Homo sapiens: one gene and its partners. The protein of the gene in region 3 interacts with the protein of the main gene of each other region in a pairwise test. Each region holds a gene or a part of one and is shown on either strand. Other genes may lie near its edges.

Region 1 (7,478 bases), on a different chromosome or scaffold from region 3:
AGGGGCTTCGGCCTGGAGAGGGCTACTTCGTGCGGGTGACAGCAGTTAATGAAGGAGGCCAGAGCCAGCCCAGTGCCCTGGACACATTAGTGCAAGCCATGCCTGTTACTGGTGAGTGCTGCCTCCTTCCCCGACCCCTGAGCCCTGCAGGCCTCTCCTAAGAGGGGGCCCCTGAGTAGCCGCAATGCACTTACTAAGCCAGGATCCCCACCCTCAGTTTCAGGAAGTAACATTTATTGAGCACCTACTAGGTGCTAGGTACTGGGCTAGGCAGTCCCTTCTTAGAAATGTTTTCTCATTACGACTCATAACTATACTACAATATTAATGTTTTTATTCCGAAGTTACAGAGAAGGAAACTGAGGTTCAAGGTACTTTGCCCTAGTTGTCACTAATGGTATGTGGTACAGCCAGGATTTAAACCTGGAGACTCCAAAGTTGATGTTCTGTAGGAGAGAGAGTGGCTGCTTCCCGGGCATGGCCTTCGAAGGCCTAAGGGCCGCTCAGCTCCCATGGTTCACGTTCAGAATGGGACATGCCCAGCTCCCCGTTATTATTGAAAAGAGGATTGTCTTTCCCTTTGGGCTTTAACCACCACAAGCACCTGATCTGCCTTTGACCCAAGCTGACACTGGGCCACCCCAGCTGACCCTAGTCATCACTATGGCAGTAGGGAGTCACAAACACAGCACACGGAGTCCAAAGTCCCAGAATCTTGTCCTGGCTCTCTCCCGAACAAGGTGTGACCTCAGGCAAGTCATTTCCTGTCTTAGATTGGTGTTTATCTCATCTGCAAAACATAAGCGCTCTGCCACATGTCTGCATCTTCCTCTGTTCCAGCCTAGTCCACCCCTCTCCCTGCAGGGTTCCTTTCTCAGCTCCTGTCCCTCCCCCGCTAGCATCTCCCCATCAGCCCCTGGGGTCTCCCCTGAAGATTCTGCTCCCAGCTGTACTCCAGTCCTTTAGAGGCCCCAGTATGTTGGGATCTCAGCATCAATCCGACTGGCCCAGTCTTCCCCTCCAGCCCTACCTTGCTGGGGACCTGGGGCTGGGGTCCAACTGTGAGGGAGGAGGGAGGTAACCAGTCCTCTTGTGCGTTTCAGTCTGTCCCAAGTTCCTCGTGGACTCCAGCACCAAGGACTTGCTGACAGTCAAGGTCGGGGACACAGTTCGTGTGCCCGTCTCCTTTGAAGTGAGTGTACCTGCAGGGGTGTGGGGAGGGAAGCCCAGAGAGGCCAAGGGGGCCAGACTCAGCCCTGTGGCTCTCTTTTCTTCCCTGTTCCTTTTTGGCCCCTAGTCAGTGCTTGTGGAAATCACTGACTGGGCTTGTGGAAATCAGGTGAGAGACATGAGGCAGGAAGGATTCAGGTCCTCCTTGAAGGTACTGCCCTCACTTGGCGGCTGGGTGGCCATTCTGCTCCAGGCCTGCAAATCCCTCTAGTGGTAGCTTCAGCTACTGCACCTCCAAACTAAGGCTCTTCGGTTCTCCACCTCTCCTAGTCTGGGAATTCAGGGAGCCGGTCGTGCAGATGATCCCCTTTGACTTCACAATGTATTTTTGTGCAAGCACATGACCTATATTTGACTCAGGGTGATCCTTAACCAACACCAACACCACCTGACTTTACAACAGTAGGGTGGTGGCTAAAAGTACAAACTGCCTGGGTTCAAATTTTGATGTCATCACTCACAGCCGTTTGACTTTGGACAAATATTATTTATTTATTTATTTATTTATTTATTTATTTATTTTGAGATGGAGTCTCACTCTGTCACCCAGGCTGGAGTGCAGTGGCACGATCTCGGCTTACTGCAACCTCCACCTCCCGGGTTCTAGCGATTCTCCTGCTTTAGCCTCCCAAGTAGCTGGGATTACAGGCGCATGCCATCACGCCCGGCTAATTTTTGTATTTTTAGTAGAGATGGGGTTTCGCCGTGTTGGCCAGGCTGGCCTCTCAAACTCCTGACCTCACGTAGTCTGCCCACCTCGGCCTCCCAAAGTGCTGGGATTACAAGTGTGAGCCACTGTGCCCAGCCAGAACAAATATCTTAACATCTCTGTGTTTCACCTTCCTCATCTGTCAAAAGGGGATAATAATAGTAACCTACCTCAAAGGTCTGAGGGTTCAAGGAATTAATATATTGAAAGTGTATATGTAGGGCCTGGCATATGACAGCACCCAATATGTTTTAATATTATTATTGTTTAAAATCATCATCATCTGTGTAGGAATTCAAACCAGTCTATCTTACTCTAAATGACTTGTTCTTAACCACAATAATGACAATGATAATGATGGCAAAAATATTTAATGCACATTGAGTAGTTACCATGTCCTAGGCCTTGTTCTCTCTGCTTTCCGTGTATTTATTATTAACGCCTTAAATTCTCAGAACAATCCTGTGAGGTCAGTTAGTGACTATCAGCATCTTCGTTTGACTCTGGTGCCCACCGTGCCCTGTACTGAGGGCCCCGTAGGGAGTTGACGGCATGGTCACCAAGCAGCTGGGCTGGCCTTCCCACCCTGCTCAGGGTCACCACAGTTCAAGGCCAGGACACCGCAATCTTCCTCCTAGACTATTGCCAAATTATCTCCTACATGGTCTTGGCTGCCAGGGTGGTTAACACTCCCCTCCCCACACATCCCTTCTCATTCCCATCCCACCCCCTGCCATGTGAATCCAGAACTCATTATGCTTTCCTGCTCAGAATCTGACAACAGCGGCTCCTGGCTGAGAGGATAATGTCCAGATGTCTGTAGAGGTGTGACGTGGAGGGCACTTTGCATTTTTGCCGAACCTCTTCGTCCAACTTCCTTTCTTGTTCTACCGCCCCCCTACCATACCCGCCTGCCAACCTCACACTTTATCACCACCCCTCTTTCCCACCTGTGTTTTCTTGTCGACGTTGTGTTTTCTGGTCGACTTTCTCCTTGTAGAAGACTCTTCTCACCGCTTCTACCTTTGGCCTAGCTTAAATGCCATCACCTCCATGAAACTGCCAGCTTCCCCTTCTCAACTTTTCCTTCCTCTCCTTTCTCAGGCCATGCCCATGCCTGAGGTGACCTGGCTGAAGGATGGCTTGCCCTTGCCCAAAAGAAGTGTGACTGTCACTAAGGATGGCCTCACCCAGCTTCTGATCCCTGTGGCTGGACTCTCAGACAGTGGTCTCTACACTGTGGTGCTGAGGACCCTGCAGGGGAAGGAGGTTGCCCACAGCTTCCGTATCAGGGTGGCAGGTGAGGCAGGCCTTGCTCTGGGCTCTGGACGCTGGCTCGGCCACTCACCAAGGCAAAGAGGTGTCCACTGGTCTGATCATAGGTCTCAGCCACTCTACCAGGGCTGGGTATGCAAAGTGACCATTCTCCACCTTTCCTCCATGCTTGATGATAGAAAGTAGAAAGGACCCCAGAAGATCCCCTGGGGACTTCCATTGTCCTTCTGCCTCAGGAGCCTAGAGACAGTCATGTCATGTCTCCTCTCCGACCTCAGTTATCCTTCCCGTTGAGTCAGTGAGCAGAGGCGGTTACCACTGTTACATCACTCCAAAGACCCAGGGGACAAAATTGTCTGCAGCCGTTGCACAGGATAAAGGCTTTCCTCCCCAGCTGTGGCTCCACACAGCCCCTGCCCTGGAGGAGCTTCTGGATATCCAGAAATGATCAAATAGACTAACAGTGGGGGCTCTGTAATGCAGCTTCATGAGAGCCCTGCCTCTGTCCAAAAATGCATGCCTTGTCCTGTGTCATTTTACTTAAAAACTGAAGTGAATTCAGTGAAACCCCATCTCTGCGAAAAATACAAAAAATTAGCCGAGCGTGGTGGTGGCCGCCTGTAGTCCCAGCTACTTGGGAGGCTGAGGCAGGAGAATGGCGTGAACCCGGGAGTTGGAGCTTGCAGTGAGCCGAGATCGTGCCACTGCACTCCAGCCTGGGTGACAGAGCCAGACTCCGTCTCAAAAAACAAACAAACAAACACACTGAAGTGAATTAAAATTACTCTTTTGGGGAGATTTTCTACCCTCTAGAGATAACTGTGGACCGCTGGCCAAGCTTACTCTGGGTCCAGCTACTTGTGTGGCAAGACTGCGTTCCCCAGGACCCTCAGAAGTCCTGGGACCTGGAGGGGGCTGGTAGCAGCCCTGCTGGGTCCCCTCCACGTGACCTCCCTCTGCCGTCTCTCCTGAAGCATGCCCGCAGGCCCCTGGGCCCATCCACCTGCAGGAGAACGTGCCTGGGACGGTGACGGCCGAGTGGGAACCCTCTCCTGACGAGGCCCAGGATGTCCCGCTGCACTACGCGGTGTTCACACGCTCCTCAGCGCACGGTCCCTGGCACGAGGCAGCCGACCGCATCCACACCAACCGCTTCACCCTCCTGGGCATCCTCCCCGGCCACGAATACCACTTCAGGGTGGTGGCCAAGAATGAGCTGGGGGCCAGCAAACCCTCGGACACCAGCCAGCCCTGGTGCATCCCCCGGCAGCGCGGTAAGCAGCCCCTGAGAGGGAGGAGCAGGCAGGGTGGGGGTTGCGCTCTGCAATGCAGTGGGATGCACCCAAGCATGGCAAGCGCGCAGGATAGGGACTGTGGCAGGGATGGCCTGGAGCATGCCAAATAACAGCCAGCAGCCCCGAGCTGCTGCTCCTCCCGCTCCTGCCTCACACCCACCTGTTCTGGCATCCTCTGCACCCCGACCTCCGTGGGAAGAATGAGATTGGTGTGGGTGTTTTGGTGTCTGAGGTGCCTTTGGGAGGATTTTCAAAAGCAGCCACAGACAATAAGGCAAATAGAGGTTAATGTTTCTCTGAAAACAAAGTGTATATTTTACCGCAAAGTAGATGTGGACCTTAAGATCAGTCACAGAAAAGCAGGCTATAAAATCAAATCAAGGTTTCATTTTCATAAAATACAAAAATTTCAGGAAAGCTCTACACCAGAATGTCAGCTATAGTCATCTATAGGTAGTGAGATTATGATTTGGTTTTTATTCTTTCTCCTTTGATTCTCTGTGTATTCTAATTGTCCACAGTGAATGTGTATTAGCTACAAAAAAAAATCCATAAAGAATTTTAGGAAAAGGATAGAATGAGGCAAGCCTTGGGGTCCAAATTTGCAGGCAAGATGTGGCAGGAAATCCCAGATAAGGCCTACATGGTAGCTTCATGAACTCTTTACCCAGACCCGGGTCTCAGCCAGGCCTTCCTCGCTTTCTCACCCTCTTCTCTCACCCCGGCTTTCACCACAGACAGGTTCACAGTGAAGGCTCCGTGCTACCGGGAGCCCGACCTGAGCCAGAAGCCCCGGTTCCTGGTGGGCCTGCGGTCCCACCTGCTGCCCCAGGGCTGCGAGTGCTGCATGAGCTGTGCCGTGCAGGGCTCGCCCCGGCCCCACGTCACCTGGTTCAAGAATGACCGCAGCCTGGAAGGAAACCCCGCGGTGTACAGCACTGACCTGCTGGGCGTGTGCTCCCTCACCATCCCCAGCGTATCCCCGAAGGACAGCGGGGAGTACAAGGCTGTGGCTGAGAACACGCTGGGCCAGGCAGTCAGCACTGCCACCCTCATTGTCATAGGTAATGGTGGCTGCCCTGGCAGTGGGGCAGGAAGGAGAGCCAGGAGAGCAACCACCTGCCTGTCAGGGAGGCTCCGGGGGGTGCCTAGAGGGATTCAGCCGGGAGTCAGGAGACCAGGACTCTCTGCCTGACTCTATGAACTTTCAGCTATTTAACCTACCAACACCGGCCCACATGTGGTCTTTATTTGCCCACTTTTTAAAAAATTTATTTTTATTTTTAGTTTTTTTTTTTTTGAGACGGAGTTTCGCTCTTGTTGCCCAGGTTGGAGTGCAATGGCATGATCTCGGCTCACTGCAGCCTCCACCTCCTGGATTCAAGAGATTCTCCTGCCTCAGCCTCCTGAATAGCTGGGATTACAGGCATCCGCCACCACACCTGGCGGATTTTTTTGTATTTTTAATAGAAGGGGGGTTTCATCATATTGGCCAGACTGGTCTCAAACTCCTGACCTCAGGTGATCCACCCGCCTCGGCCTCCCAAAGAGCTAGGATTACAGGTGTGAGCCACTGTGCCCGGCAGATTTGCCCACTTTTAAAATGAGGTATTTGAACTTGGTGAGCAACTCTTGATTGAAGGGCTGTGTACTGCTCACCTAAGCTTCCCAGTGGGGCCACGCTACACATTGCAGGCTGAGAGATGAACAGGCATCCGTATTGCTGTTTCTTAAGTATGTCAAGATATGAACACTTAGTGCCTAGAAAGCCATGCTGATTCTCTCATTGGTAGTCTCCTTTTCAGTAGCACAGATATATATGTTAATAAAGGTTTTTCCTTCGATAGTACTTAAAACACCTTATATTTTGAATAGCAATAAAAGGCAAGCCTCAATTGACCTTTGTGGAAAAACGGCCCCTTTGCACTGGAGCAGAGCATCTCTCCTCTCTGTAGCACCTGTGCTTAGGCATTTAGGAAGCCACTCTCGAAACACCCCAGCTTGTGTACACATGTAGTCCCGGAACGAAGATGGCATTGGGGGTGATTATGGTTCCCCGAGGGGCCAGCAAAGGGCTTTGCCCAAGCTTAGAGAGCACGTGGTGGCTCCAGATTTGAACCCACACCCCCTGATGGCAGAGCCTGTAGTCTAAGCCCCATTCTGAGTTTTCTTCACCACTGAACAGATGCAGGGTGGGGTGGCTGCCCCTCTGAACCAACTGGAATATCCTGTGTCTTGCAGAACCCAGCACCTAGCCTCACCTCACCCTGGGATGGTCCTGGACCCTTGAAGCTTCACTTCCGACACCTGCACTGGCCCGGGAAGCCAATCCCAAGGATGGAGGCTGTGCCCAGAGCCCCAGGAAAATGGGAGTGAGAAGATGCCTGGCGAGGTTTTGGCCAGGAGGACGTGAAGTCCTTGGGGAAGAAAAACAAGGGAGGAGGGCATTCCACCTCCTGGCTCCAAGCTAAGTCACTCAACAGAATGACAGCGAACCTCCTGGACCCTCACCATATGGGTTTCTTTCTTCTTCGCTTCAGGAGATCCAGAGGGCACCTGCCTGCAGGATGGGCCGGCTCCTTATTTTCCTGGGCTGAGCCGTTTGGAGGGAGGGTGGGCACAGCTGGGCCTGCTGTGACCACTGGGAGGGAAGAGGAGAGGAGGTCAGAGGACCTGGGTGAGGACTAGGGCATCAAGGTCGTGTGTGTGGGTGGGGGCAGCCTCCACCTCCTGGATTCAAGAGATTCCAGGGGTGCAGCAAGTGCTTTCTATGCGTTTCTTCATTAAAACATTAGGCTAATACAGGCAGATCATTGGCAAATTTACTTGGGGTGGGTGTGTTGGAGGAAAGATTTCCAAAGCGGAGCCTTTATTCCAGGCTTCAGTTGGGAGGATGGGTGGGTTCTGGATAGAGGAAGAACGGGCTCAGAACTGGACTCTTCTCCTGCAGCCCAGGCCTACATAGTTGA
Region 2 (7,478 bases), on a different chromosome or scaffold from region 3:
CCGCCCCATCCCCACGCCCCTCAGGAGTAACCACCTGGTGTCCTGGAGCCCTGGAAGGAGGCTCAGCCTGGAGGGCCTGCACCAGCTGGGCCCTCTGCACGATGCCTACCAGGATCTGGGACTCTGGCAAGTAGAGAGGGAGAGGGAGGGAGGTGCATTATGAAGAAACAGGCCTGAGGGCCAAGCTTCCGGAAGACCTTGGTGGTGTCCCCATGCTCCTACCCCAGCAGCTGCCCAGGGACTGCCTTACAAGCACCCAGCCGACTCTCTTTAGACATGTCAACCACCCCAAGGGAGGGTAGCCATGATTTCCATTTTGCTGATGAGGAAACTGAGGCTCAGGTGAAGTGACTTGCTCAAGGTCACACGGTTGGTTGCTAAGTCACAGAGCCTGGATGCAGATCCTGTCTGCCTGACAGGTTCAAGAAGGAGGCAGAGGGCATCCCCTACCCCCGACTTCCTCCTCCCTTCCAGCTGGGCACCTGTGCTCTCCACCAGGGGATACTCGGTCACGTCTGTGGAGGTCACAACCTTGACCACCTCCTCCAGCGGCGTGTCCTTGGCCAGTGTGGTGATGCTGTGGTTCATGAAGTGCTCCACCCTCACATGGTGGGAGCTGCAGGCAGAGGGGCTCCCATCAGGTCCCGGAGTCGGGGATGTCAGACCCAGGCCAGCAAGGGGATCTGAGGGGAGCTTTGCTTGAACCAGGGACCCACGGCTCTGGAGTGTGAGCAGGGCTGGAGAGGTTCCTGGAATGAGGGACTCCTAGAACCCACAGTGGGAGGAAACCTGGGGACCACATTACTGATGGCCCAGTTCCAAATCCCCAACCCCCTGGTCCCCCATGTCCCCCAGACCAGCTTCACTTGGGTCTTGTCCCACCTTGGACAGAGCTGAGTGTGAGATGACGGAAAACCAGTATCTGCCAGGTGGTCAGTGACTGGCCATCCATTAATGAATAATGAGATTGGAGTACAGACCCAGCAGCCTTCCCTGGATAATTCCATTTGATTATAAAAGTGTATGTCACCCCCAAGGAAAAACTTGGAAGGTTGAAAATCACTGGTATAAACAGCCCCATTTTCCCGATGGGGAAACAGGTTCAGAGCAAGGCAGCAGCTTGTTTGTGTTTGGAGCGGGGCCTCCGATTCGGACTCTCAGAGCCTCTTTGGTCTGCTTTTCTGGCGCCAGAAGCTGCTCTGGTCCTATCTGGTTGAGTGAGGACTTCAAAGCCCATTTCCATTCTCGTTCCACCTCCTGCTCCCAAAGTCCCAGCAAGGACAGCAGGAGTGGGGAGAGGGGAGGAGACCTCTCGGATCTGGTGCTGACTCTCTGTGTCACCTGGAGCAAGACACGGCACCTCTCTGAGCTCTGGTTTCCTCAATCTGTACACGGGGCAATACTCATCCTCCTGCTGTGAAGCCCAGCTGACCCCTAGACAGACACTGAGGCCTCAAGGCCAAGGACTTGCCCAAGGTCACCCAGGGCACTGGGGAGAGTGGAGATGAGAGCACAGCTGTGTGTCAGCCCCTCCCAGCCCCCATGTCGGAGGTCAGCTGCGGTGGTGTTTCTTTTTGGAGGTGCCCTCCACCCCCAGCCAAGCCCAAACACTGTGACCCCCTTCAGTCAGCCTGAGGTGGGCACCACTCACCCGATGTTGCGGCCCAGAATCCGTGGCAGGTATGGCAGCTTCTTGACAATGATGGTGCCATCATAGAAGGAGGGCTGGCAGCTCTGTGCAATGGCGTTGGCTGCCAGCACCGCCATCAGCACGGGCAGTGCATGCACTATCTGGCCGGTCAGCTCAAAGGCCAGCAGCGCCGTGGAGATGGTGTGGGTCACAGCCCCTGAGAAGGCTGCAGCCCCTGCCGGGGCAGAGCCACACAGGTCGGCTCAGGCCAGGAGGCAGGGGCCAGCCTGATGTGAGGGAATAACTAGCCTGGCTGCTGCCGGGGGCTAGGGTGGGAATTGTAAGAGGCCACAGCCTGGGCACTGTGGGAAGTGCCCCAAGGCCTGGGCTTGGTGAGAGGAGAGGGATAAGGGAGGCCGCAGGGCTGGGGACAGGAGCCACGAGGAAGTGATGGGCCCCGGGGAATGGTGGGGCTCAGGAGGGACAGACCCCCATGAGGGGTAGGGGGTTCACTGGAGGACTCAGTGACTGCTCCGTGCCCTGGGGAACCACCAGCCAATTCTCCAGGTCCAGCCCAGCCCCACGACATTGCCCACCCAGCAGGGCCGTGACCCACTCACCTGCCAGAGCATACCCCCCGGGCATGATGGGATTGGTAACCCCTCCAGTCACAATGCCCTCAGGGAAGGCGACGGCAAGAGCCTCTCCCAAGAGGCGCCCGATGGCAGCTCCTGGCCACAGACTTAGGGTGAGGGGGAGCCAGGCTGACCCGGCCCCCACAGCCCTCCATCCCTGAGGACCATCCTTAGTACCACCCGGGAAGAGGGTGAACCAGGATGCATGGCCCTGCCCCAAGAACCCCAAAACTCTCAGAACCTCAGGACCCCAGACTCACCAAGGATAAAGATGGGCATGAAGTACCCGGCAGGCATGGGGATGGTGGTGGCCAGAATCAGCATCCAGAACTGCAGGAAGGGGGAGCCCAGGGCAGAGGTTAGAGGCCGCTGGGCAAGGTGTGGACAAGAGAAGACAGGACAGGGGACAGGGGAGTGTCCTAGATAGAAAGAGGGTGCCAGCCATGCACCCACTGCCAGAGTCTGGCATTAGGGGAGGGTCCTCACCCTGAGAAATGCCCACTGTATGCCTGGCACTGTGCCAGGTACATTCCTTTCTTCCTTCTCTGCCTTCCCAGTAACCACCCCATTTTAAAGATGGGAAGACTGAGGTCCAGAGACCTGAAGCCACTTATCCAGGACCATGCAGTGGGCAGGGGGCACAGAAGGAAGTGTGGGTGAGAGGCCTGGGCTCCATGCCACCAGGTGCAGGGAGGCACCCCCGCCCCTCCCCACCAGAGCTGGTCCTGGCTCTGTGCACACCTGGGGGTCAGGGGGCCCACCTTCATAACCAGGAAGAAGGCAAGGGTCCCAAAGATGGTGAACCGCGGGTGGTACCATTCCCACCAAAGGTGCTGGGGGTCGAGCTCCTCGGGCCAGGGTGGGCTGGAGTTCTGGGTCATCAGCGCCCAGGAGTGGTTGTCGAACAGCGAGTCCAGATGCTGCTTCATGGACAGCTGTGGCGGGGCAGGTGGGAACTGGACATGAGGGGCCCCCCCCAGCGGCAGACCCCAGCCTCCCCCGCACCGCCTGACCCCGCCTGGAATCCTCCCCTGCCACTTCCCAGCGGGGGGCCTTGGGCAGGGCTCTGACCTCCCAGAGCCATGGTCTCCTTATCTGCAGAATGATGCCCAGGTGTCACCCTGGTGGGGTGCTGAGGGTATTACGTGAGACACATGCAAAGGGGAAAACAAATGGGGGTTCCCACTCCTGCCACCCCCGCTCAGGACCCCTTACCCGAGAAGCTAGGAAGTGGCCCACACCAGGCGGGTAGGTGATGGAGGCGAGAAGCAAGGTGGCCAGAGCGGAGTACACAGGCTTGCTGTGGGGGGTGGGTGAGCTCTAGGGCTGGCCCTCCCTTTCCTACATCCCGAGGAGAGGGAAGTAGGACCTGGTCCAGGCAGCAGCAGAGCTCCCCACCTGGGGGCTGATACCGAGGCAAGGACTGGTGAGGAGGAAGGGCGGGAGCAGGGAACATGGCCCCCTCCAGCGGGTAGAACCCGTGGGGTGAGCCCCTCAACTGGGTATGACTGAGGGCAGAGGAATCACGCAGGAGATTGAGAGGAGAATTGGGGCAGAGGCAGGCTAGGAGGGAGGAGACAGTGGGCCGGGCCGGGGCGGGCCATGTGCATCTCCGGGGCAGGAGGGCTGGCCAATGCCAAGGCCAACGCCAGGGGCCACACAAGGTTTGAAGGGGCACAGGGTTTGAGGCTCAGTGAGGGGGTGGGGTTTCGCTGAGAGATTGTAGAATGAAGGAGGGATGGGGGTTCAATGTGGGGTTCGTAGCCCAGTAAGGAAGGGGGGACAGTGACTGTGGGGACTTGGAGAGGGTTGTTAGATGCTCCACGGGCTAGGGAGGGATTTAGGGGCTCAGTGGGAGGATGGGGGTGGGGCTTTCTACATAAGGTCTGGAGTCCACAAGGGACTCACTGAGATGTCCCCAGCCCCTAGCCCAGAGCCTACCTAGTAGCCAGCAGTTTGGAGCTGTACCGATTGGTCTTGATGAAGCTGAGGAAGGTTCGCTGACAGAAGAGGTAAGCACAGCTCAGGACGCCGCAGATGCCACTGCGGGGTGAAGGGAGGTAAGACCAGAGCCTGACCCCAGTACCAGGGGCCGCAGTCCAGGCCTTGGGGGGAATGCCTTTTGGACTCTCAGGGGCCCAAGGCACCCACTCACCCCAGCGCCACAAAAAAGAAGATCTCAGGCAGGTCGAAGGGAACGTCCACCCGGAAACTGGTCTTGTAGAGGGAGGTGATGGTCTCTGGGGAAGGAGGGCAGTGGGGAGCCAAGATGGCGCTCCCACCCGACCCAAACTCAAGTCCCAGACTAACAGCCCAGGGTGGAGGGGGTGCCAGGTCCTGACTCGGAATCTGTGTCCTGGCATTCCAGGCCCCCACAACCAGGCTCTTGCCTCCCTGCCCAGCCTCATCCCTTCTACCCTCAGGGCCCCTTGCCCCTCAACACAGGTCAGGGGCTCAACACAGGTCAGCCCCTTCCATCCTCCCTGAAGGAGGTGGGAACACGGAGGAGGGAAAAGAGGGAGAGAGAGGGAAGGGAAGAGCAAGAGATGTACACAGAGGAGAAGGGAGGTCTCCCTCGCCCCGGCCCCCAGGCAGGGCCAGGGTCAGGCAGCCCAGGGGGCTCACCCTGCTCGCTGTTGAAGACTGCCAGGAGCCGGAATATGAAGGCCCCGCAGGTGGCCGCAAAGAAGCCCCTCCAGTAATCCCGGACAGAGAAGTGGGAAGACATGACCTCGATGCTGAACAGGACGCCTGGGGGCGACACTGATGTCAGGTGGGCCCCCACCCCCACCCACCTGTGGCTGTAGGGCCCCCTCCCCCATCTCGCCTCCTCCCTGAGCCATCTGTCCTGCTGTCCTACAGCCCGGACAGGGACAGACAGAAGGGGAGGGCAGGGCTTGCGCCCTGGGCGGGGAGGACCCCGCTGCCCAGGGATCCATCCAGCCTGGAATGCAGGTGTGCGCCCTCTCCCTATCGGGTGGGAACGGTTTGATCCCCATTTTACAGAGGAGGAAGCTGCGCTCAGAGAGGCCAAGGGGCCAGTGGATTTCAAACCCAAGTCTGTGTAATGTTATCCTGAAGCCTCTCAGCACCGCCCAACCACGCCCCCAACCACCCGCCCCGCCCCGCCGCCCCCGGGGGGTGGCTATACCCAAAGCGGGGCTGAAGTGAGAACAAGAATGAGCCCCATCCCCTCCTCCAGGCTCTCAGCTGGGCCGAGGGAGCCCAGGGTGTGAGGGGAGGAGCTTGAGGGACCCAGGGGGCGGGGCATGAGGGGGGTCTCACCGCTGAAGGGAGCTGCAAAGACTGTGGCCACGCCCACTGCCGCCGCTGCCACCAGCATTTCGTTTTGCTTGCTCTTGTTCTGGGGGATCCGAGTCCAGGGCTCAGAGTCAGCCCCCTCCCTCCCCACTCCCATTTCTCCAAGGAAGCCCCCGAGTCCCTAACCTCAGGCTCCCCGATGGTCGTGGTGCGCACACGGCCCAGGTAGGCAGCGATCATTACAGACAGGTGCACGAAAGGGCCCTGCAGAGGGAAGGGTGGGCCCAGGTGAGGGCAGCAGAGACAGTCTCACCCCGAGGCAGCACGGCTTCCCCACCACACCCCCTCCTCCATCTCCCCAACCCCCAGGGCTGTCCTCAGGTAGCTTTTGTCACACTGGGGACCTGGCCTGGCTCTTCCCCTAAGACTGAGCTCCCTGAAGGCAGGCACTGGCCTGAGTCTGCTCTGACCCAGCTTTGGTGGGGTATGGGGGAGAGCTGGGGCAGGGTAGGGTGGGCGGGGTGGCTGGGGTGCCCTCACACCTGACCATACCACTTTGCCCAGGAACAGGGTGCTGCCGGTGGCCAGGGTGCAGGAGAGGCCCACCACCTTGGCCCCAAAGTTCTTGATATCCAGGTAGTCCTCCAAGATCACACCCGCCAACATGGTCTTCAGCTCCGGGATTCCAGAACCTTAGCCAGACAGGACAGGAACAAGCAGGGGACAATCTCTAGATTAAAACTCTCTGCCAGGCGCAGTGGCTCACGCCTGTAATCCCAGCACTTTGGGAGGCCGAGGCAGGCGGATCGCGAGGTCAGGAGTTCGAGACCAGCCTTGCCAACATGGTGAAACCCCATCTCTACTAAAGATACAAAAAATTAGCCGGGCATGGTGGCGGGTGCCTGCAGTCCCAGCTACTTGGGAGGCTGAGGCAGGAGAATTGCTTGAACCTGGGAGGCAGAGGTTGCAGTGAGCCAAGATTGTGCCATTGCACTCCACCTTGGGCAACAAGAGTGAAACTCCATCTCAAAAACAAACGAACAAACAAACAAAAAAAACTCTCATAACTCTACCCGCACGGTGTTTTCACATTATGATTTTTTTTTTTCCTTTGAGACAGGGTATCACCCTATTGTCCAGGCTGGAATGCAGTGGTTCGATCTCGGCTCATTATAACCCCGACTTCCTCAGGCTCAAAAGTGATCCTCCCACCTCAGCCTTCCAAGTAGCTGGGACTACAGGCAGGCACCACCACACCTGGCTAACTTTTTGTTGTGGTGGTTGTTTTTTATTTTTTGTAGAGATGGGGTTTCACCATGTTGTCCAAGCTGCTCTTGAACACCTGGGATCAAGTGATCCACCCACCTCCCAAAGTGCTGGGATTATAGACTGAGTCACTGCACCTAGTCCTATTATGATCACGCAGAACCCTCAGAGGTTAGGATGCATAAACTCATTTTGCAGATTTGGATGCTAGAGTCAGAGAGGAATGCGAGTTGTCCACGTTCCTCCCACTGGGACTGGCAGATGGCTGTGTCAGGATGGGGGAGCTCTGAACAGAACCTCAGGCCACCACTGAGTGAGCCTGGAGCTCCCCTCTGCTGGCCTGGAGCTGGAGGAAGGGCTGAGTGGCCTGAGGGAGCGGCACCTCCTCCATGGGCCCCTTCCTGGCACCAGCACAGGCCCCACAGGGCAATCTCCTTCCAAGGAGCCCTTGGAAAGCGAGTAGGGCCAGCAGTGACCCAAGAGTCAAGATCTGGCCTTCTTGCTGTGTGCCTTCAGGCAAGCCACATAACTCTTCTGGGCTTGAGAAATGAGGCTGCAGCTTCCCGATTCCCCCCATCAGAAGCCCCCTGGGATCTGAGAAGGTTTTGGCACTGGGGACTGGCATGGCGACCGTGGACTCACCTCCAGAGGAGGGCGTGATGCTCTGGGAGAAGCCTGAGGAGAAA
Region 3 (6,510 bases):
CAAAACCGAAACTTGGACACATGTTTTCTGAGCCCTAATCCAGTGCTTTCTTCACTTACATTGCATTGCCACTAGGGGCAGAGGAAGGACAATAAATTCCCATATCTCAAAGAACAGCAATGTAGATCCCCCTAGCAAACTAATTTGGGAATAATAATTAAGTTATGATCTATATCAAATGGTTTCACCTCCAAAGAGAATAAAACTTCTAATAGAAATACACTAAGTGAGGTGCCCAGAGCAAAATGCAGATGAGAGTTCTGCTTGGCTTGGTTTGCATCATCTCCTTTCAGATGTCTCTCTTTTCCCATCTGGTTTTTAAAGATACGAAGCTGAGGTGTCTCTACGCCAGCTGGTAGAGTCAGATGCCAATGGCCTCAAGCAGATCCTGAATGTGCTGACCCTGGGCAAGGCCGACCTAGAGGCACAAGTCCAGTCTCTGAAAGAGGAGCTCCTTTGCCTCAAGAACAACCACAAAGAGGTGAGACAAAGACCAATAGAGTAATCACAAGCTAAGTCCCTAAAAGTAGCATCAGTTCCTTTGAGTTGCACCTGACAAAGGGTGTGCCCGCTTGTATTAGTTCGTTCTCACACTGCTATAAAGAAATAACTGAGAGTAGGTAATTTATAAAGGACAGAAGTGTAACTGAGTCACAGTTCCACATGGCTGGGGAGGCCTCAGGAAACTTACAATCATGGCTTAAGGGGAAGCAGGCACATCTCACTTGGCAGCAGGAGACAGAGAGAGACCAAAGGGGGAAGAGCCCTTTATAAAACTATCAGATCTTGTGAGAACTCACTCACTATCCTAAGAACAGCATGGGGGACACCACCCCCATGATCCAATCTCCTCCCACTAGGTCCCTCCCTTGACACATGGGAATTATGGGAATTACAATTCGAGATGAGATTTGGGTGGGGACACAGAGCCAAACCACTGCTACGTACTACTCTGGTTTAGCCCTGAAAATACCTACTGCTACTAGCACTGGTTCAAGGTAGTATTTCAAATCCACTGGCTCCAACACAATATCTGGAGCCATAAGGGGAAGAAAGGCCTCCAACATCCCCTCCAGCTTTTCTACAAGAAGGAACCCAATTTTTCTGTCCTTACAGTCTTCCCATGTTTGTAGGCATCCCTATACAGGCTTCTGCCACCTCCCATTGGTACAAGTCAATATTGGTGCAAGTCAATATTGGCACAATCCCGTATTTGCACCATAGAGACTATAATCTCTCATGATCAATTCCACCTTTATCCTGTTTCACCCATTATCCAGCCCTGGAAATGATCTAAATTTTTTGGAACTCTGGTCTTGCTACTCATTTTTTTTTAATTTTGCACACATTTAAACACACAGTCCTACCTGAAAGAGTCTTAAATCATTTTATAGCATCTCAATAACACCTGTAAATCATGTATTCCTTTGTTGTGGGCTATATTTTAGACACAATTAAGCTAAATCGTAGCAGTTAGAGTGAAACAAGAACACAAAGGGGTTATCTGTTCACCAAGTGACTTCACAGTCTTTTTCTTTCCTTAGGAAATCAATTCTTTACAGTGTCAGCTTGGGGAGAGACTTGACATTGAAGTGACTGCTGCCCCTTCTGCTGACCTAAACCAGGTTCTACAAGAAATGAGATGTCAATATGAGCCCATCATGGAGACAAACCGCAAAGATGTGGAACAGTGGTTCAACACGCAGGTGGGGGATATAGAAAAGTCAAAAACAATAAGCTGATGCTGCATTTCTAGGGCCCTTTAATCAAAGTCATGTTTTCCTCCCATAATATTCTCAGTCTCTGGCTGTGTGTTTCAGATAGAGGAGCTGAATCAACAAGTGGTGACCAGCTCTCAACAGCAGCAATGCTGCCAAAAGGAGATCATAGAACTGAGACGCAGTGTGAACACTCTGGAGGTTGAACTGCAGGCCCAGCATCGAATGGTACTGAGCAAGCTGACCAAGCCTAGCTCAGCAAAGATGGAAACAGTCCCTTACACCTGTGTGCTGCAGTATTTCCCAAACTGTGTCTTTCAGAACAATAGTTCCTCATTTGTTAAAGCGTCTATGGCTGAAAAAGAGCTTTGTGGCCAAATAAGTCTACGAAACGCTGCACTAAACCAAGGTTAAACAGGGTGCCTTCCTGTGAGCCATTAATAAGCTAATATACACCATGAATCTCCAGGAAGGGGGTATATGGTATTCAGCATTCCAAAACTTATTTGACTGTGGATCCCCCCACTTTTTTTAGAACATCTCATGGTATTAATGATTCATGAAGTACACTTTGGGAAACACTGGGAGAGCATTTTATTATATGCAAAGCATTTTTACAAGCTATCACATGAGATTTATAAAGCAATCCTAAGAGGGGGGGTGGCATAATTATTAACGAATGTTACAGATGAGGCTCCAAGAGCTAAAGTGATTTTCCCAAGCAAATCCAAGGTAAGTTTCAGCCCACCTATTTTATAGAGACACTGAGATCCTGAGACATTAAGAAACTCATCCAAAGTCACAAAAGAAATAAGAGTCTGAGCCAGAGTTTAGATTCCAAAGCCAGTATCATTCTGTCTCATGATAATGCCTCTCTGAAGTAGAGAATTGCTTACATGCTCTGATGTGAAGGCTTTTGGGAAGACCTTGCCCCACACTGGTTTTGTCACCAGCTAGTCATGTGACCTTGGACAACATATTGAACCACTTGAACCTCAGTTTTCTCATCTATAAAAATTGGGATAATCATGCAAATAATAGGCTATTAAAACCTAAAATCCCATCATTATCCATAGACTTACAGAATGATAGAGCAGGAATGAAATTTACTCATCAGTTTCAACTTTCATATTTTACATATAAAGGAATTGATCTGGTGGATAAATTGTATATGGTAAAACATTGCTTCCTTCCTTTTTTAAGACACGAACACTCACTGAATGAAGTGCCATGGTAATGCTTTTTTTTTTTTTTCTTTTTGAGATGGAGTCTCACTCTGTCGCCCAGACTGGACAGCAGTGGCACGATCTCGGGTCACTGCAACCTCCACCTCCCGGGTTCAAGCAATTCTCTGCCTTAGCCTCCCAAGTAGCTGGGATTACAGGTGCCCACCAGAACACCCAGCTAATTTTTTGTATTTTTAGTAGAGACGGGGTTTCACCATCTTGGCCAGGCTGGTCTTGAACTCCTGACCTTGTGATCCACCCACCTGGGCCTCCCAAAGTGCTGGGATTATAGGCGTGAGCCACTGCGCCCAGCCAGTAATGCATTTTTAATGCCTGGGTGTGCATTAAGTTATTATTTTTTCTCTCCTAAGTAGGAAAGTGTGGTGCGAGACTATTGGTTGGTCAAGAAAGAGAAAGTGAAACAAATACTTACAGAGAAGCAAAAAGAGAAAGAGAGAAAGAGGGAAGAGATAAAGGAAAGCAGATTTTAGCATAGTTGATCATTTGGGTTTTGGATTTATTTGATTAGGAAACAATAAATAAAGTGCTTGGAGATCTATCAGTAGTGTCACAAAGAAACCATTTTTTTTAAATGATACAGGTCACAGGTGACCTGGGCTTAAAGGAGTCATTATAAATCCTACTATCCTTCTCCATGGTAGAGAGATTCCCAAGAGTGCATCCTAACGGAGACAGAGGCTCGCTACACGGCCTTGCTGACCCAGATCCAGAGTCTGATTGATAACCTGGAAGCTCAGCTGGCAGAGATCCGGTGTGCCCTGGAAAGACAGAACCAAGAATACGAGATCCTGCTGGACGTCAAGTCCCGGCTGGAATGTGAGATTACCACATACCGCAGCCTTCTGGAGAGCTCGGATGGCAAGTATGTAAAATAACAGCAACTTCTATGACAAAAAAGTGTAAATGAACGCAGATATATGTACTGCCACTGGCAACAGGGGTCAAGTGCTTTGTTTGACCTTCTTGCCAGTGATGGGGAGCTTGGACAGAGGCATCCACACACCCTCTCAAGCTGTGCCATGAGGAAGACTTGCAATTGTAACCTTATCCAAATTTGAGGCATTGGCTGACCTGAGCTGTTCTGAAGAGCCCATGGGCCAGGTTAATTTCTTATAGGTTGCTTACCTTCTTAGAGTTTTAAAAATTACTAGAGAAAAAATTATTTCCCCATAGATGAATATTCCTGGTGACCATTACAGATGTTTCCCCACTGAGATGAACGTCTGATTTTCATGAGCTTGTACAAAACAACCCAGGCTCCTTTGGAGGAACATTCTGCTCAGGCTGAAACCCCTAACCCTATCTAGCCACTAGTCCTTGAGGCCAACAGAAGCATGTACACATGTATGTTTTAGCATCTTTTTTAAAAAATAAAAGTTATAATTTTTGTAAGCAATAAGAAGCTAACCAACCCATAAGTAAACATATATGGAGGATGAGTTCTTTGAAGCAACTCAGTCCAAACTAAAACCCCAGAGACTTAGTTACAATTGCAAAGGAGACCTACTTCCCGAAAATAATCAGTGAACTCTTCACAGCATTCTTTTAATTGGCATGACCACATTATGTGAGCACAATGGTCATCAATGCTGTCACCTTTAGGAGCTGTGATCATATACCAAAATACCTCGAATCATCAAAGAAAGATTATGTTTATAAAAAGAGTGTTTACTATGAACTGCTTTTTACTTCAGTTCTCTAAAAACTATGCATAGACAGCCAGAAGGCACTTTGAAGCTTCCTGATGACACAGTGAGGACTCTTTCATAGCTGGGGTTCAGGCCACCACTATTAGTATGACTAACTCCTCAATGAGAAAAATATCTGGTTAATTTCCATTCCTCGGATAATAATGCCCTCAACTTGTTCCTTATCACTGTTGATCCTGTGGGTTTAGTTTCCATTATATCCATTCTGCAGATGAAAAACTAAAGGTTGAGTGCGTTAAATGACTTAGCTGAGGTCACCAGCTGGTAAAGGACAGAGCTGGTCTCTGCCTCAGTCTTTTGACTGCTAGTGCAGTATTCTTTCCACAATGTGATGGTATTGACTAATGGAAACTTACATAATCGAATACTTCTAAACCTAGGATGCTGATTTCCAATGGATTTAATCTGATTCTTTTTCTTCCAGTAACTACAGTACAAAATAAATGAATAAGCATTTAGAAGTATGTACTTGTCTTGAGCAACACGTGTTAAAAAAATTAGCCACAATCATTTTTCTCCATGACCATCATCGCCTTCCCTCAATCACAGCTAAAATTGTGTTTTTTTTCCTTAGGCGTCCCTGTTACCCACGTGCCACCAAATGTGAGCCTTCCCCTTGGACATCTTGTAAGTCCGGAGCCATAGAAAGCACGGCCCCAGCTTGCACATCCTCATCCCCCTGCAGCTTAAAGGAGCACTGCAGTGCCTGCGGACCCCTGTCCCGGATACTGGTTAAAATTTGCACCATCACCAAGGAGATTAAGGATGGGAAGGTCATTTCTTCTTACGAGCATGTGCAGCCTTGTTTCATCATCAGACCTGCCAAAGTCTAACATCCCAAGGTGATGAAAATGACCCACATTTATGAAACAGAGGCCAATACATGCTCCTGCCAGAGAGGTTTAAGAAAACTCCCCAGTCCCTTAAGGTACTTAGTTTCTTACTACTACAGCGGGTCCCCATTGCTAGGTAGAATATCTTTTATTCTGCTCCTTCCCTAACTCACCACTGCTAACATGATAATAAATTACATTTCTCTGGAAGGATGTTTTGCATTTATCTGAGGGATGGGAACTGATTTGTAAGCACCCAGGAAGATGGCCTACATTGCTTGACTACCCAGGTGATTGATGGGCAGGTCTCTCTCTTGTTTACTCAGGCCTTGTTTACCGACATTCCTCCTTAGAGCCAGTCAGACAAGTTTAGGGTTGTTTTTGGCCACCGGCACCTGAAGGTGAAAAGCTACAACCTTCCCTTCTAAATGTCTTTGGATACAGAAAGAAACATATATGGGAACAGTATAAATAGGGGAAAAGATCTTTAATATTTAATTCACTTGTGTAGATAGTCACGAGTATGGATCCTATTAAACTCTGCTGTCTTAATTATGATTTATCTATACTAACATACTTTACCTTTCCAAAGATATTTTTTTAAATGTCCATGGTCTCCAAAACTTTGTGACCTATTAGGCTCTCCAAATATTTTATTTGAGAATCAGATAAGTTGTGGGGAGTGAATCTAGAACACTTTGAAGAAATAGCATGGGTCTTTTCATTAAACATTTGCTATTTCTCTTTCTATTCTTTAGGGAATGGGAGTTTGTTCTGATTGTTTGACAAGGAACATTTAGCTGGAATTCTCAAGAAATAACCCTTCTTCCCCTCCCTGTGAAGAGTGACAAAGAAAAACATAGCTTAGATTCCTGCTTCAATCTATCCATCAGAGTAAATGGACATAATATCCACACATTTTGCAGAAAAGCAATAGTGAATAATTGCTGCTTGTAAGTGCAAGGCAGTCCCAATGTGAGAAGGCATCATTTATATACCAGCC

What was found.
Region 1: the proteins of KRT39 (region 3) and IGFN1 interact in binary tests that used the Homo sapiens proteins (3 or more experiments, as listed by UniProt).
Region 2: the proteins of KRT39 (region 3) and CLCNKA interact in binary tests that used the Homo sapiens proteins (3 or more experiments, as listed by UniProt).

The regions. Positions count from the first base shown.
Region 1 is NC_000001.11:201,221,636-201,229,113, forward strand, and holds the end of IGFN1 (immunoglobulin-like and fibronectin type III domain-containing protein 1), read left to right. Parts: coding exon 1-111; intron 112-1,103; coding exon 1,104-1,192; intron 1,193-3,043; coding exon 3,044-3,239; intron 3,240-4,188; coding exon 4,189-4,488; intron 4,489-5,246; coding exon 5,247-5,573; intron 5,574-6,750; coding exon 6,751-6,764; 3' UTR 6,765-7,317; downstream 7,318-7,478.
Region 2 is NC_000001.11:16,024,848-16,032,325, reverse strand, and holds part of CLCNKA (chloride channel protein ClC-Ka), read right to left. Parts: coding exon 7,435-7,478; intron 6,219-7,434; coding exon 6,079-6,218; intron 5,791-6,078; coding exon 5,713-5,790; intron 5,630-5,712; coding exon 5,551-5,629; intron 5,017-5,550; coding exon 4,891-5,016; intron 4,506-4,890; coding exon 4,421-4,505; intron 4,309-4,420; coding exon 4,207-4,308; intron 3,566-4,206; coding exon 3,481-3,565; intron 3,201-3,480; coding exon 3,027-3,200; intron 2,596-3,026; coding exon 2,526-2,595; intron 2,362-2,525; coding exon 2,251-2,361; intron 1,866-2,250; coding exon 1,652-1,865; intron 617-1,651; coding exon 483-616; intron 124-482; coding exon 35-123; intron 1-34. UniProt on the Homo sapiens protein: Anion-selective channel permeable to small monovalent anions with ion selectivity for chloride > bromide > nitrate > iodide. Forms a homodimeric channel where each subunit has its own ion conduction pathway.
Region 3 is NC_000017.11:40,957,598-40,964,107, reverse strand, and holds the end of KRT39 (keratin, type I cytoskeletal 39), read left to right. Parts: intron 1-324; coding exon 325-481; intron 482-1,544; coding exon 1,545-1,706; intron 1,707-1,820; coding exon 1,821-1,946; intron 1,947-3,606; coding exon 3,607-3,827; intron 3,828-5,248; coding exon 5,249-5,507; 3' UTR 5,508-5,691; downstream 5,692-6,510. UniProt on the Homo sapiens protein: May play a role in late hair differentiation.